2 separate regions of the Homo sapiens genome follow, and region 2 is linked to region 1. Evidence: fine-mapped expression QTL. A gene starts in region 1. The other region holds a variant in brackets. All regions are shown on one strand. Distances are between the middles of the regions.

Region 1 (2,920 bases):
AACTGAACAAATAAACCTAATCCAGGTATTTAATACTATATGGTTAATGATAATGAAAATAACCGTTTTGATTGAGGCATAGCTGATAAAGAACTATATATAGAAAACAGATTAATTTGCTTAAGTACACTTTTGAACTGGGATAATCGGCCCATTTCATCAGAGAGAAGAAGATATGATTATCTTCCTACTTGCTGTGGTAAATTGGTCTGTGTATAGTTCACCTAAACACAGTACCTTTCAGTTTTAATTTCAAATATGCTTATAGATCATATGTAGATCATACGATAACTCTAGTTTAACCCTCTGATACAAACTGCCAACTATTTCCAAATTTTAATCTAGTTATTTTATATTAAAACGGAAGGGAGTTGTTAAAAGGCACTTTTTTATAAGGGTATGTATGATGGCAAATAAAACAGACATCGCCTCTGCCCTTGGAACTTACAGTCCAGTGGAGACAGACAAAAAGGAAATTCACAAATGAATTTATTGTAACAAATTATGCTAATTAGAAAGAAAAATCACTGAGACAATGAAAAAGACCAACAAGGGAGCCTACTTAGCATGGTCAAGGAAGGCCACTCACATTACAGGTTGAAGGCGTGTGTGACTGTCTCTTTCCTGAGATAGAAAGAAAACCTGGAAGAGTTTTTGGAACTAAAAGGCCAGTGAAGCTGGAGAGTTTTAGGGGGAAAAGGGGAAGAGGGAATAAGATCAAATAGAGGAGGCAGGAGGAGCCACATCGATCAGAGCTTTTGAAATGCAACAGGAAACTACTGTAGAATTTTAAGCAAAGGCATGGTAGATCAAATTAAAAGATTACACTGGCTGCTGTGTGAAAACTTGGGGATGAGGAGTAGAATGGGCCAAGAATGAAAGCACCGTTGTCAGGATAGTTGTAATTACACTGAGAACAGATAAGAAAAGGAATATTTGAACGAGAATGGTAATTCTGATTGCAGTGGGAAGCATCCTTTCAATTTAGAAACCAACCTAAAGGAAATTTACACAAGGTAAACTCTATGAACTTGATATTAAGCGAAATAACCTAAACTATCAAGTGAACTAACTATTCGTGGCAATTCCTGCTACCCAAATAACTTCCAACAGTATCTTGCTGTTTACTTGGGCTACGTTTTAAATTAAACAACATGCTTACTTGGGCTAAATTTTCGCCCACTTCAAATATCTTCTAATACGCAGGCGAACTACTCAGATCAAAGACAAAGAAAGGATAAACGGCAGGTGAACGAGATGACGAGAAGGGAATGCTGCAGAGTGAGTGGTCCCGAAGATCCAGCCAGTCTCCAGAAAAAAGTACTTGTAAGCAGCCTCATTCAGATGAAAGAAAGAAGGAAAAGTTCAACCGCCGAATTTCTTACTTATATTCTTCCTCCAAGGCGAGGAGGTCGGGTCCAGGTGTAGAGGGTTGCTGAACGGGTGGCGGGAACGGAGTCCCTGGAACGCTGCTTCTCTGTAAAAGAGCCACAGACTTTCAGACCCGAAGTTAAAGGAAGTTAGGCGTCCTAGTCGCCGGAACCCAGACGCTCCCCAGGAGCCTGGAGTTGAACTGACCGTGAGACACAGACTTCGCCCCGCCATCTTCGGCGACTGCGACGCGGTTACCGAGGCAACGACGCATCTTCCCGCGAGAGTTTCCACATCCCGGTTGCCTCCCGCCCGGGCGCCTACGCCTTCCCACTCTCAGGTTCTGTGCTGCGAGCGGCGCGAGCCTCTGGCAGCGGGCTCGGCCTTTGCTCGCAGCACTCGGCGCTGTCCCAGGAACCCAGGAAGGCTTCCTAACTGCAAATTCGACTTAGTTAGTGCAAATTCTCAACTTGTGGGGGTTGAAAGAGTTTCAGCCAAAACAGGCAGGTCCTTTGCCGCTACTCTATAGAAAGCAAGCTGGTGAGGCAATCCCTCCCTGTTGTGCTTTTCAAACCGTTAGTGGCTAATCCGACCTTCACCCCGTTTGCTTAAAGTGAGCTCTTCAGTGGAATTCAGAAGTTTTGATTTCTAATTTTTGTTTACAGCATGCATGGCTAAGACTCAGGCTCTCAAGTTAGTCAACCTAAATTATTATCCTGGCACTGCCACTTACCAGTTATATGGCCTTGGGCAAATCACTCTGTATATCGGCCACTTCATTTGTCAAATGGAAGTGAGAATAGTGCCCACTTCACAGTTATTATGAGAAGCAAATGAATTCGTGCTTAGGATCATGCCTGAAACACGTAAGCGGTTAACAATTTCAATTGTTTTGGAATAAAATTGACATCCAAAAATAAACCGTGATATGATGTATGGTCATCTGATCTTTAGAAAGGGTGCAAGACCATTCAATGGGAAAATAATTGTCTTCAACAGATGGGGAGACAACTGGATATCCAAATGCAATTAGACCCTTAACTTCACACCATATACAAAAATTAAAATGTATCAAAGACCTAAACTTAGGAGCTAAAACTCTAAAGCTCTTCAAAGAAACTGTTGGTGTAAATCTTTATGACCTTGAATTACAATTCTGAGAATCCTTGATGGATTCTTAGATATGACACCAAAAGCAGTAGCAAAAAAAAAAAAAAAGAAAAGAAAAAAGAGGCTGGGCACAGAGGCTCATGCCTGTAATCCAAGCACTTTGGGAGGCCAAGGCGGGTGGATCACCTGAGGTTGGGAGTTCAAGACCAGCCTGACCAATATGGAGAAACCCCGCCACTCCTAAAAAAAAAAAATTAGCCGGGTGTGGTGGCTCATGCCTGTAATCCCAGCTACTGGGGAGGCTGAAGCAGGAGAATCGCTTGAACCTGGGAGGCAGAGGTTGCGGTGAGCTGAGATTGCACCATTGCGCTCCAACCTGGTCAACAAGAGCGAAATTCCATCTCAAGAAAAAAACAAAAAAAAGGAAAAAAAAATAGAT
Region 2 (2,920 bases), 86 kb before region 1:
TCAGAACTGCAAGAGGTACATGTATAGTAAATTTAGTTGATATTTGAATGTATAAAATATTTATTATGTCTTTTGGGAATTAAAATATGTAAAGAGTTAAAAATATGACAAAATGAGATAGGAAGTAAATGAAGTTAAAGTCAAGAATCTTGCATTGTCAAATAATAATGAATAAATTTATTCACCTGGAAACAAAGAAACATGCTGTAATATCTGTAATAAAAATTTGGAAAAGAAAATATAACTGACTAATAGAGAATAAAATACGATAATAGGAATTGATTATTCCAAAAAACTCATGTAAAAAAGAGTTAACATAGCAGGCTTGAGGCTATCTTAGAAAGTCCTCCTTGCAAGTTTGGTCTTTGGCTGGTTTCTGGAAACTAGGCTTTTGAGAAGGTTCTTACCACCTTAACTGCTGAGGATGATTCACTGTGGCTAAAATGTGAAAACAATATGGATTAGGCCGGGTGCGGTGGCTCATGCCTGTAATCCCAGCACTTTGGGAGGCCGAGGTGAGTGGATCGCAGGGTCAGGAGATCGAGACCATCCTGGCTAACACGGTGAAACCGCGTCTCTACTAAAAATACAAAAAATTAGCCGGGCCTGGTGGCACACGCCTGTAGTCCCAGCTACTTGGGAGGCTGAGGCAGGATAATCGCTTGAACCTGGGAGGCGGAGCTTGCAGTGAGCCAAGATCGCGCCACTGCACTCCAGCCTGGGCGACAGAGAGAGACTCTGTCTCAAAAAAAAAAAAAAGAAAAAAAGAAAACAAAACAATATGGATTATACTGAATACCCATTTTCTTTCTGGGAGTCTGGAATATTGGTACGTTCTAAGTAGAGGGTGCCTAAGTTACCACCCCCAATAAGAACCCAGAGCACTGAGTTCTGATGAGCTCTAATGTTGTCTGCCAGGCATTTCACACGTCACAACTCATTGCTCGGGGAATTAAGCGTGTCCTGTGTGTTTCCACAGGTAGAGGCCTTTTGCACCTAGTTTTCTCTGAATTTCACCCATGTGCCTTTTTCCTTTGCCAATTTTGCTGTGTTTCGTTTCTTTATAGTAAGTCATAGCCGTGAGTATAACTATATGCTGAGTCCTGTATCCTCCTAGTGAATCATCTAACCTGATGGTGGTCTTGGGAACCCCCAACACAGAAGCAAACAGGAGAGAAGAGAGAACATAGGACAGGGAAGACAAGTAGAAAGAAGATATAAGCTTGTAAATGGAAACCCAATTATATTAGTAGTTATAGTAAACATATTTGAACCATTTGCCAAAATTGATGAAATGTTGTATCAGAATAAAAATATCAACAGATTTTCAGAGGAATCAATTTATACATAGTATTTTCTCTGTCCATAGTGGAATTAAACTAGACGTAAGTAATAAAAAAAAATCTAGGCAATCTTTATATGCTTAGGTATTTAAAAATGTGCTTCACATTACCCTTTGGTCAAAAAGTACAGATGCTCCTTGATGTACGATGGGTTCATGTCCCAATAAACTACATTTTCAATTTACGACAGGTTTATTGGGATGCATCCC[A/CA]TCATGAATTGAGGAACCTACTGTGAATGCATATGGTTTTCTCACCATTGTAAAGTCAAACCATCATTAATCAGAGACTGTCTATAATCAAAATTGAAATTAGAAAGTATTTTTAACTGAATAATAATGAAAATACCACATACTAAAAGTTGCAGGATTGGACTGATATTAGCAAAATAGCAGAGTAGGCAGCTCCCAGCTCCTGTCTCTCCTCCCAGCCCATCCCCCGACTACAAACATCAGAAAACAAGCAGAAACTCTCAGAACCAATTTTATAAGAAATTTGGGTAGCATTCAAAGGTTTATTGCAATCAAGCAAATGCTGAAACAAGAAAAAGCCTAAAAATGGTAGTAAAGTTCTGTGGTATCTTCACTTGCCCTTTCCTCATTCCCTCCTAGCTCAGAGGCAGGTAGCCCTTGTTCCCAATGCAGGACCCTGGTCCCTGGTTCAGGAGGAGCAGAGCAGATCTTATTCACAAATTGTTGGGTATATCTGTTCTAACCTACCTTGGGACTACGTGAAAAACTAACACAAGGCACTTATCTGTTTTACCTCACTCAGAACTCATTTAGGCCAGAAGAACAAATTGTATCTCTGATAAGGATTTAATATCTGAAATATATAAAGAACTCTTACAATTCAATAATTTTAAAAACCCAGTTCAAAAATGAACAAAGAACTTAGACGTTTCTCTAAAGAAGATGTTGAGTGAATGATAAGTACATGAAAATATACTCAACATTATTTGTCATTAGGGAAATGCAAATCAAAACCATAAGAAGAAACTGTTTCACATCTAATAGGCAATTTTAATAAAAGTAGTGGAAAATAATAGGTATTGCCAAGAAAGTGGGAAAATTGGAACCCTCAGAAATTGCTGGTAGAAATGTAAAATGATGCAGGTGCTATGGGAAAAAGTTAAACAAAGGATTACCATATGAGCCAGCAATTCCACTCCTAGGCATAAATATACAAAAAATTCAATAGTGAGACTTAAATGGATACTTGTATACAAACTTTTGGTGCAGCATTATTTCCAATAACCAAAATGTTGAAACAACCTGAATGTCCATCAGATGGGTGGATAAATGAAGTGTAGTATATATACATTATACAATATCCTTCAGTTATAAAAAAAAAATGAAGCACTGATACATGCTAAAATATTAGTGAACCTTGAAAACATTATGTTAAGTAAGCGAGACACAAAAGGACAATTCCTTGTATAATTCCACTTTTGTGAACTATCTAGAATAGGCAAATAGACAAAATGCAGATTAGGAATTCCAGGGGTTAGGGAGAGGGAAGAATGGGGAGTTATCGTTTAAGAGGTGCAGCATTTCTCTTTGGGGGGAATGAAAAAGTTT

Which allele goes with the higher level. Alleles are on the strand shown, and positions count from the first base shown. SD is a standard deviation of normalised expression in the study named.
With allele CA in place of A in region 2, the expression in tibial artery of the gene that starts at base 1,630 in region 1 is higher (small effect, 0.31 SD a copy in GTEx).

Evidence for each region. PIP is the estimated chance that this variant, and not a neighbour inherited with it, causes the effect.
Region 2: its variant is the best candidate, but not a certain one, in a credible set for the expression of TEX9 in tibial artery (GTEx, PIP 0.70).

What each region holds. Positions count from the first base shown.
Region 1 is chr15:56,364,136-56,367,055 of GRCh38, reverse strand. It overlaps TEX9 (testis expressed 9), which reads right to left and starts at 1,630. Exons shown (of 12, transcript NM_001395496.1): 1 at 1,579-1,630; 2 at 1,386-1,477. The coding sequence starts at 1,605. RefSeq lists enhancers at 1,337-1,386, 1,927-1,976, 1,987-2,166.
Region 2 is chr15:56,450,362-56,453,281 of GRCh38, reverse strand. The region is part of intron 3 of MNS1 (meiosis specific nuclear structural 1); the gene reads left to right. It also overlaps a transcript of TEX9 not described here. Among named protein-coding and RNA genes, the nearest start is that of MNS1, 13 kb to the left of the region's middle. The variant A/CA (reference allele first, on the strand shown) is at 1,553.